Regions from separate parts of the Homo sapiens genome. Here region 1 is linked to region 2. The links come from fine-mapping of genetic effects on gene expression. A gene starts in region 2. The other region holds a variant in brackets. All regions are shown on one strand. Distances are between the middles of the regions.

The links. PIP is the estimated chance that this variant, and not a neighbour inherited with it, causes the effect. A credible set is the group of variants that fine-mapping cannot tell apart.
Region 1: its variant is the best candidate, but not a certain one, in a credible set for the expression of SLC24A3 in subcutaneous fat (GTEx, PIP 0.83).

What each region holds. Positions count from the first base shown.
Region 1 is chr20:18,952,147-18,957,362 of GRCh38, reverse strand. No RefSeq gene overlaps it. Among named protein-coding and RNA genes, the nearest start is that of SCP2D1-AS1, 120 kb to the right of the region's middle. The variant G/A (reference allele first, on the strand shown) is at 2,227.
Region 2 is chr20:19,210,568-19,215,783 of GRCh38, reverse strand. SLC24A3 (solute carrier family 24 member 3) reads right to left here and starts at 3,142. Exons shown (of 17, transcript NM_020689.4): 1 at 2,800-3,142. The coding sequence starts at 2,941. It overlaps LOC101929547 (a long non-coding RNA gene), which reads left to right and starts at 3,316. Exons shown (of 3, transcript XR_007067549.1): 1 at 3,316-4,155. RefSeq lists a silencer at 2,742-2,791.

The DNA.
Region 1 (5,216 bases), 260 kb after region 2:
AATAGGTGATAAATCTTGAGGCAAAACAAAAAGGGGCACTAACTCCATCTAGCCAGCAGCCAGATCACCAGTATGATACGAAAAGAGCTCAAAGACTCACGCAGTCAATGGATGGTCTCCCAACAGTCTGCCATGTCACCCAAAATCCCCACTATTAGAATTAACCCAGTAAGGCATTGCTAAAGTGCAAGTATTTTGCCTGGGAGGGTAGAGATGGTAACCAACCGACACATTAGTCTAAACAAAACCACCAACTTTCCTCCCAGACTAAGGCCACACATCCTCCTTTCCTGCACACTCTACCTGCTTTCTATAGAAACCAGTTCCTTCAGGTAACTTGTTCCTCTTTTTTTAGGAACCCTGGGTTCACAAAATACATCATTCACAACATTTGTGGTTAAGAGAGCAGAACTCTGGAGACACACAGCCTGGGTTAGAATTCCCGCTCAGCTGTGTGGTATTGGGCTAGTTGCTTGATCTCTCTGTGCCTCCGTTTCCCCATGGAAATAGAAATAATAATAATCCCACCTTATAGGACTGTTTTGAGGATTCAGTGAGTCGATGGTATATGTAAAGTGCTTAGAACACTACCTGGCATATGAATAAATGCTAACTAGATCACTAATTCACTTTTGTAATTGGCCTGAACAATTTAATTTATATTAGTCTAATTTATATTATTTTAATAATCTAATGTAATAAACATCAATGAATATATTATGAACACAAAACCCAAAATACTAGGAATAATTTATACCTACACATACACTTCTCTTCCACACTGTCCCCCACCTCTCCAAAATTAACTTAACCAAAGGTTTAACATTTTCTTTTTTTCCTCTCTTTTCTTTCTCCTTCTTTTTTTCTTTTAAGGCAGGCCCTTGCTGTGTTGCCCAGGCTAGCCTCAAACTCCCGGGCTCCAGTAATTCTCCTGTCTCAGCCTCCCAAGTAGCTGGGACTATAGGCCATACCACCACACCTGGGTTAACATTTTCTTTTTTATTTTGCATATAGTCTTAACACATGTTTTTCTAAAAATATGTTGTTTCATTTTAGTTGCTTTTAATTGTATTAAAAGTGTTTCATAGGGTATATCATTTTCTAGGACTTTTTAAAACTCAGTGTTCCATCGAGTTGTGTGTAACTGTAATTTAAATGAACTGTTTAGTACTTTTATGTAAATTACATATGTTTGACCCCATGAAGTTGGCTCCATCACTCTAAACCAATACTCTAAAAATTCGAAAGTTTTAAAACGTGTCCAAATCAGGAAGACTCAGCTGGAAAATACAGTCAAGATCCTGGTGCTCCCACCTTCCCCTTACAGAGAAGAGCTTCTGATACAAACACCACGGTCTGAGTGGGGCAGCCTCCTGCACCCTCACTTCAGTTGTCCTTTATGTCTTACTCTTCCACTTAGATCAGAAATGATGTCCACTTCAGGGGTGGTCACCCTGGGGAGTCGCTGGACAAAAGCAGCCTAGACCCAGACCATGGCAGGCCTCATTCTCCCCATCCTCACATTGGCTCCCCAATTTGCTGCTCCTGGCTCAAAGTCCTGGCACTGAGGCTGAGGTACCAGGGGTCGATGCCAGTCAGGGGCAGAGGATGGACAGAGCATGGCAGGGGCTTGCTCAGGGAGGAGAGGGGGAGTGGTCACACTGGTCCTCAGGTCACACCAGTCGACAGCATGGAAGCCCCGGATGCTGGAGAAGAACTGGGTGTGGGAGACGAGGCTGAGATGCTGCAAAGACACCCAGCTGCAATCACAGCCTTGCCTCCCCGTGATCCTGCGGTGGAGTCAGGGGGGAAGGCAGGGGTTAGATTTATCCAGCAACATCCCTAAATGTATTTGGAAATGTCTTTCTTAACACCTCTAGAATCACAAACTGCCTAAAATTACTATATTTTCTCTCAAGCCAAGATTACGTGGAAAATCCACAGAGAAAAAATTTTCGTCCTCAATAAGGGTCTTCAATAGAGAAGAATCAATCAATAGAGAAGAAACAATTCCTGGGACTCCATGGGCTGGAAAAACAGCCCTGAATCTTGGATGCCTCCTTGGAAGGTACTTGATATGTCCTCCTCAAGATGATAATCTCTCAGGAAATTGACCATGGGGAGCACAGTGACTCACCTGGCTCTGGACTTCAAGACAAAACAGGCACCCACCCCTTCTTGTATTAAATTGGGTTTCGGAAGCACTGATCTGTTATTATTTTGAAT[G/A]TCCTCTGAGCCTAGCATCAGAAGGAGGCCCCAAAAAGACAAACATTAGCATCAGTGTTACTCAGAAAACAGAGGTTTTAAATGTCAAGGTGGGAAGTGAAAGTATAGAGAAGCAGGGAAGGGCAGGAGAGAAGCGTGGCACTAGGCTCAAGTTAAGGAAGAATAGCCGAATCTTCCAGTAGAGGAGCCTCCTCCCAGGACCACTCCCTCATCTCTTTGCTAACCATCTTCACTGGATTCCACCCAAATTCAAGAAGGGAGGAGACAAGAGACCTGCCAGCAATAGTGGGACCTTAGGTTGCTTGATGAAGCACTGACATCACTTTCCTCATCAACAAAATGAGCAATGGGACCACATCGTCTGCAGTATTCCTATCAGTTCTTTCTGTGATTTTGTGCTCAAAGCCAGATTCATTACCTACCGACGTGCACATGTGCGTGAGCACATAGACACACAAACACACATGCAATCAGATCTATTTCTAATCCTAGTATCAACAGGATTCACAATTTCTATGTTATTCTCACTATCTCTCTATTGACCTCAGTAACAGTGGCATCAAATGGATTCTAATAACAAAGACAATGATAATAATTGCTTTTACAGTAATCATATATACAGAATCTACACTAGCAGTACATGCAATCACATAGTATTTTATATATAATAATGAATATTACTAAATATACATAATATATACTGTATTATATATCATATATTATTTTAAATCATGTGTCACATATTCAGAGAGAAAGGTCGGGTTACCCTGAAAGGAAAGCCCATCAGACTAACAGCGGATCTCTCGGCATAAACCCTACAAGCCAGAAGAGAGTGGGGGCCAATATTCAACATTCTTAAAGAAAAGAATTTTCAACCCAGAATTTCATATCCAGCCAAACTAAGCTTCATAAGTGAAGGAGAAATAAAATACTTTATAGACAAGCAAATGCTGAGAGATTTTGTCACCACCAGGCCTGCCCTAAAAGAGCTCCTGAAGGAAGCGCTAAACATGGAAAGGAACAACCGGTACCAGCCACTGCAAAATCATGCCAAAATGTAAAGACCATCGAGACTAGGAAGAAACTGCATCAACTAATGAGCAAAATCACCAGCTAACATCATAATGACAGGATCAAATTCACACATAACAATATTAACTTTAAATATAAATGGACTAAATTCTGCAATTAAAAGACACAGACTGGCAAGTTGGATAAAGAGTCAAGACCCATCAGTGTGCTGTATTCAGGAAACCCATCTCACGTGCAGAGACACACATAGGCTCAAAATAAAAGGATGGAGGAAGATCTACCAAGCAAATGGAAAACAAAAAAAGGCAGGGGTTGCAATCCTAGTCTCTGATAAAACAGACTTTAAACCAACAAAGATCAAAAGAGACAAAGAAGGCCATTACATAATGGTAAAGGGATCAATTCAACAAGAGGAGCTAACTATACTAAATATTTATGCACCCAATACAGGAGCACCCAGATTCATAAAGCAAGTCCTGAGTGACCTACAAAGAGACTTAGACTCCCACACATTAATAATGGGAGACTTTAACACCCCACTGTCAACATTAGACAGATCAACGAGACAGAAAGTCAACAAGGATACCCAGGAATTGAACTCAGCTCTGCACCAAGCAGACCTAATAGACATCTACAGAACTCTCCACCCCAAATCAACAGAATATACATTTTTTTTCAGCACCACACCACACCTATTCCAAAATTGACCACATAGTTGGAAGTAAAGCTCTCCTCAGCAAATGTAAAAGAACAGAAATTATAACAAACTATCTCTCAGACCACAGTGCAATCAAACTAGAACTCAGGATTAAGAATCTCACTCAGAGCTGCTCAACTACATGGAAACTGAACAACCTGCTCCTGAATGACTACTGGGTACATAATGAAATGAAGGCAGAAATAAAGATGTTCTTTGAAACCAACGAGAACAAAGACACCACATACCAGAATCTCTGGGACGCATTCAAAGCAGTGTGTAGAGGGAAATTTATAGCACTAAATGCCTACAAGAGAAAGCAGGAAAGATCCAAAATTGACACCCTAACATCACAATTAAAAGAACTAGAAAAGCAAGAGCAAACACATTCAAAAGCTAGCAGAAGGCAAGAAATAACTAAAATCAGAGCAGAACTGAAGGAAATAGAGACACAAAAAACCCTTCAAAAAATCAATGAATCCAGGAGCTGGTTTTTTGAAAGGATCAACAAAATTGATAGACCGCTAGCAAGACTAATAAAGAAAAAAAGAGAGAAGAATCAAATAGACACAATAAAAAATGATAAAGGGGATATCACCACCGATCCCACAGAAATACAAACTACCATCAGAGAATACTACAAACACCTCTACGCAAATAAACTAGAAAATCTAGAAGAAATGGATACATTCCTCGACACATACACTCTCCCAAGACTAAACCAGGAAGAAGTTGAATCTCTGAATAGACCAATAACAGGCTCTGAAATTGTGGCAATAATCAATAGTTTACCAACCAAAAAGAGTCCAGGACCAGATGGATTCACAGCCGAAATCTACCAGAGGTACAAGGAGGAACTGGTACCATTCCTTCTGAAACTATTCCAATCAATAGAAAAAGAGGGAATCCTCCCTAACTCATTTTATGAGGCCAGCATCATTCTGATACCAAAGCCGGGCAGAGACACAACCAAAAAAGAGAATTTTAGACCAATATCCTTGATGAACATTGATGCAAAAATCCTCAATAAAATACTGGCAAACCGAATCCAGCAGCACATCAAAAAGCTTATCCACCATGATCAAGTGGGCTTCATCCCTGGGATGCAAGGCTGGTTCAATATATGCAAATCAATAAATGTAATCCAGCATATAAACAGAGCCAAAGACAAAAACCACATGATTATCTCAATAGATGCAGAAAAAGCCTTTGACAAAATTCAACAACCCTTCATGCTAAAAACTCTCAATAAATTAGGTAT
Region 2 (5,216 bases):
GAGTTTCGTTAGATGTCTAGAAAGGGATCTTGGATTCCATATGATTAGAAATGTTATGAAACATCATATAATATAATTATCACACATCTCTATTTTGCTTTGGTAAAAGAACTGTCATTTTAAGAGGAAAGAAGAGAGAAAGGAAGGGAGCAGGAAGGAAGAAAGAATGAAGGAAGGAGAGAGGGAGGAAGGGCCAACAGAAGGAAGGAGGGAGGGAAAGGTCAATATGTGTTAGAAAACGAGCTTCTGAGAAGTTACATTTAACAATCACTGCATGGCTTTCAAGGTGACTAAATGAAAATATTACCTTTGATCATTATGAAGGTACCCCCTATGAGATTATATAAATATTACAAAGCTACACCCAAATGGTGGTTTGAATATGAGGACAGAGTAGGGAACAAAAAACCAGGTTACCTCAGGTTGGTTTTTTCCTCTACTCTTCGAATGCTGTGTGACTTTAAGCTAATCACTCAGCCTCTCTACACCACAAGGTCTTCGAAACAATGCTCCATTCCAAACTTCAGTATCTGTACCAAAGGACCACTAGGTAGTGTGTGCTCCAAGTTTCCAGGGTAAAAGTCACCATTCAAATGCTTACGTGTGCCAAACGACAATTCCCCTTGCAAAATTATCATTTGCAGATTCACACACATTAATTAATATGTTAAAAATTATCTAGAAAAACCTGTGTCTTGCTGCAAAATACTACTGTGCATCACATACCAAAATCATCAATACCTAACGGAAAAAAAAGTGATTGGAGACCATTTCAACTCATATGTCATTCGGGGGCAACACAGGGAGGCTGGCTGGCATCCTCCTTAACATTTGGCTTTTGCCTGTTAGATCTTCAGTTACTGGGGTGTGGAGGGGTCCTAAGACCAACAGAGATGAGAAGGGAGGAAGAGGAAGTGAGAGGAAAAAAGAATATGAAAGGTAGGAAGGAGAAAGGTAGGACAGAGGGAGGGATGCGGAAAAGGCCGTGCTATGGAACTAAATCTGAGTCAGTGGCACCTGAATAGAAATGTCACTACCAGGGAAACCATTCCAAAATGACATTCCAGTCCCCAGGTTTCAAGTTTGCAGAGTGTCTGGCCTCCTCTCCTCCCAAATCCCAGCTTTTCAGGGCCCAGGCAGCCCCCTGTCACTGATTGACTTAACTATATGAGTCACATCCTTCACCCAGAAAAAAATGTCTTTTATATTCTTGAAAGTGGTGGGAACTCTATGTCTCATAGAGCCCCAACATACCAGAAAAAAATGGCCAGCGTGTAATCCACTAGGAATAGCCCTTTCCAAAGGTGGCATGAACTATAAACTGGTTTTTCACTGGAGAAAAATAAAAAAGGAAAATAAAAATGGGATTCGGGAAAACCCCCTTAGTGAGACTGTCAGTAGACAGAAGTCTGGCAGATGTGAATCTGCCCTGGGAGAGATTCTGCTTCCCTCACACCGGCACGGCCCCCTTCCTGATGTCAGAACCCAAGGCTACGGGATCTGAGATCCAGGAGAGCAATGGAGAGAGCCGTGGAGTCTTGAACAGCTTCACTGAAGACCAAGACGGACTCTCTGCTATTACCATAAATGATGAAGTCTGTCAAGCGGTCTGCTAAGACTGAATGAAGACTGACGCCTGTTTCACTTCCCCACCAAGCAGGAGACCAGCCAAGCTGGGGGAGATCCCTTTTTAAATTCATGGCACCTTTGAAAATATTTTACGGTGACTATCAAAATGTCTTTATTCTGCACCTCATGACATCTTGCATTAGAGCTACGTCGACCTCAACACCACAGCACATACTTGTAACTGTTTTTTTGTTTGTTTGTTTTGTTTTGTTTTGTTTCTTTCTCACAACCCTTTACATGGCTGTTTTCCCACTAATCGTGCCACTTCCACGGCCGGGATATAAAACCATTTTACAACAGTTATTCTCCCATGTTTTTCCTTCATTTTATAGACAGCTGAATCCCAGGATCGAAGCTGTTTCAGCAGACAACTGTTGGGAGCACACAAGATCTATTTCAGCTCAAGAAAGGCCAAGGACAAAGACAAGACAAAAGTTGTGGGTTAAAGGGCAGACTTTGCGCAGAGCACCGGTAGAGGAGCGGACAGTGTGATGCGTGGTCCACTGCAAACCATTTCTTCCACAGCAGCAGCTCTGCAAAAGGGACCTCTGAGGAAGAATTCCCTGTCTTCCCAGTGAGTGGTCATTTTAGGAGAACAAGTCCCCTACTAGCCCATAGCTGGAGGGCCAACACTTTTTCTCTCCCTGAAGTTCCCGGCACCTGTTCTGAAAGGGGGTTGAAGAGCTCTCTACTCGGGCCATCCCGCCTGCTCTCTGGATGGAGAACATACGGACAACTGTGTGTTAAGCAGTCCCCTTGAATCCTTCAGCAAGCCAAGGAGTATACAGGTGGTCACCTGCACAGGTGCCGGGTCTACCACCACAACTTTATCCCTGGCCTTGGGGGCTGATGGAGAGTAAGACTCCCCACCACCGCCACCAGCAGTACCTCCAGCTCGCGAGTAAGCAGCGCACAGGCGGGCACAGGTAAATGTTCCCAGGGCGGCCAGACGCCTAAGCCTGCTGGCTGCTGGCGCTCAGGGTCCCCACCTCCATGCCTCTGCGTGGGGCAGGGGGAGTCCTCGTGCCTGGCATCCCACTCCCCCCGCCAACCCAGCCCGCTTATCCTGGGGCTCCGGCCGGGCCGCCCGAAGGAGCCCCGCGCCCAGCCCCGGGAGCCCCGAGCCGCCGGAGCCGCAGCGCCCACTCGGGGCAGGCAGCGTGCACTCACCCTTCTGCTCTCGCAGGCTCGACAGCGACCAGAGCAGCAGCGCCACCGAGGCCAGGAAGCAGAGCTGGCTCAGCAGAAGGTCCCTCCGGCGGCGGCGGCGGCGGCGGCGACGCGCGCGGTCCTCGTCGCCGGACGGCCGCATCCTCGGGCGGCCGGGCGGCGGCCTCGGCGGGCGGCGGCCGCTCCTGTCGCGGGCGGCCGCGGCGGGGACAGCGGCAGGAGGCAGCCCTGCGCGCAGCAGCCGCGCGTCCTCGCTGCGCTCCCACCCGGCCGCCGCCTCCGCCTCCTCTTCCTCCTCCTCGCCGCTGCCCGTCTCCTCGTCGTCGCCCTCCTCGTCGCTATCGCCCAGTCCCTCCTCCCCTCCCTCCTCCTCCTCCTCGCCGCTCGCCCGCGCCGCCGCCTCCCGGCGCTCGGGGTCCCGCTCCTCCTCGCGCGCCATGGCTCCCACGCTCCGCGCCCGCGCTCGGCCTGGGGCGGCGGCGCGGCGGGGGCGGCGGGGGCGGCCGGGAGGCGGGGGCGGAGGGGGCAGAGGAGGAGGAGCGGGGAAGGACCGACGGTAGGAGGGCCCGCCGCTGGCCAACTCCGCCGGTTGGCAAAGCCACCCCGGACTGGCTCTGGCCTCGCCGGCTGCAGGAGCGCCTCGCGGGGCCGCCCGCCTATTCCATGGTCGGCGCGATGGGGGCCGGGGCCGGGCCGGAGCGAACAGGGAGCACCGAGCGAGCTGGGAGCATGAGCTAGCGCAGCTCCCGGCAGCCTGCAGCGGCGAGGCTGGTCGGGCCAGGGTTGGCGGGGGGCAGTGCCTGGGACACAGCCCGGCGCTGGCCGGCATGGCGGGGAGGGGGCGCGCTGGGAGGAGACTGGGCTGGGGAGGGATCCCTGTGTGCAGTCCTTCAACCCTTCTGTGCCAGGGGAAGAGGGACGGCGCAGGGGGCCCCCTCTCGGGAAGCACACACGCTGCCTCCCAGAGGCCGATCTTCACCAAGAAGGATTCGCTGGAAACTTTCGGAAAACCGAGGGGCTCTTCAGCCTCCTCTCTACGTGCTACCTGGAGTCGGGGCGCCGCGAGTGCGCTTGGCTGCCCGCGCCCAGCCTCTGGCCTCGCCTCTTCTCGCGGGCCTCCCGGGTTTCCCTCTGCCCCCTTGCGGGGATCCCCCTGTGCGCCCGACTCGGGATCTGGAACAGGCCTCCCCAGAGGCTGTTAGTTCCATAAGGGTGTCCGGCTCCCCCCTCTGTCTTGGGCTCACACTTCGCTTTCTGTTCGTGCTGGACCAAGTCCAATACTGTGGCTGATCGAAGTGGGGACAGCTGGCACGGTCCCTGGAGAGGCGGCCTGAAGAGGCTTCTGGCCTTGTGCAGGTAACACCAGCCTGCCCTACCTCCAACGTTAGAATCTTAGTCCTCCCATTTCCCCCATTCTAGGTCTCCTGCCCCTCCTTGCTGAAGGTGTGGGCTGCCCTAGAGATGGCTGGACTCACGACCTGCCGCAGGTGCCCATTTGGAGGGGATCCCTGGCCATCCCAGACACAGCCCACTCTCCCTCATTGGGCTTCCCTGGACTCTTCCCAGATGCTAGCCTGGGGCTGCTGGCTGGGCTGAGGAGGAGATGCCATTGTTGGGGCGGAGGGTGGGGGGGCGCTGAAAACAAAAGACCTTGTCCAGAAAGGGATCACCTGAAACCAGGTGTCTGTCTAGGTGACTGTCTCCATGGAATCCATTCAGATCAGGGAATCTAGCTTCATACCCTAAGGAGGTGGGAAGGAAGCAGAGAACCTCTGTATAAGGCTCCCCTGTCTAGGTCTGTTCAAATGTGTCCCCACCTGTGACTGACCTACCCCCCCCGACCTCCTCCCAGACAATCCCTGACAGCGCCCGGGGACAGCAAGGTCACAGCAAAGGGCAAAGGAAGTGGTTATAGGTGGCCTCCTTTCCAGAGAAAGGCCATCTCACCCAGGGAGACCAGAGACTTTTCCTTTGTGGGTATATCATTTATGACTGCTGTTCTCAGCCTGGCATCTTCCAGACACTCAGAGTACCTCCCCCACAATGCCTGAGTGGTTTTCCCTTTGCTTTGGCTGCAGATACTAAGGAGGGTGTAAAAATACGAGTTCATCCGTGCTGGAGTGTGTGGGGAGAATTCTCTAGTTGTGTTATCTCCATCAAGCTTTTGCAGACACAGAAAAGAAAGTTTAGGAGCTGAGAAGAATTCAACTAACCAGGAAAGTCACTCAAATAGTGTTTTCTAGTGAAAACGAGGGAAAATAGAAGGTGAGAGAGGGAATCTGGAATTAATTGAGTTAGGAAATGAACACAAGCTCCAGGGGAAAATACCATAGGCTCAAGGAATTGTGTAATCTGGTGATGGAGGGGGAGTTAGGAAGGGAGCCAGGAGGAAGGAGAATAACCAGGAACTGGTAATT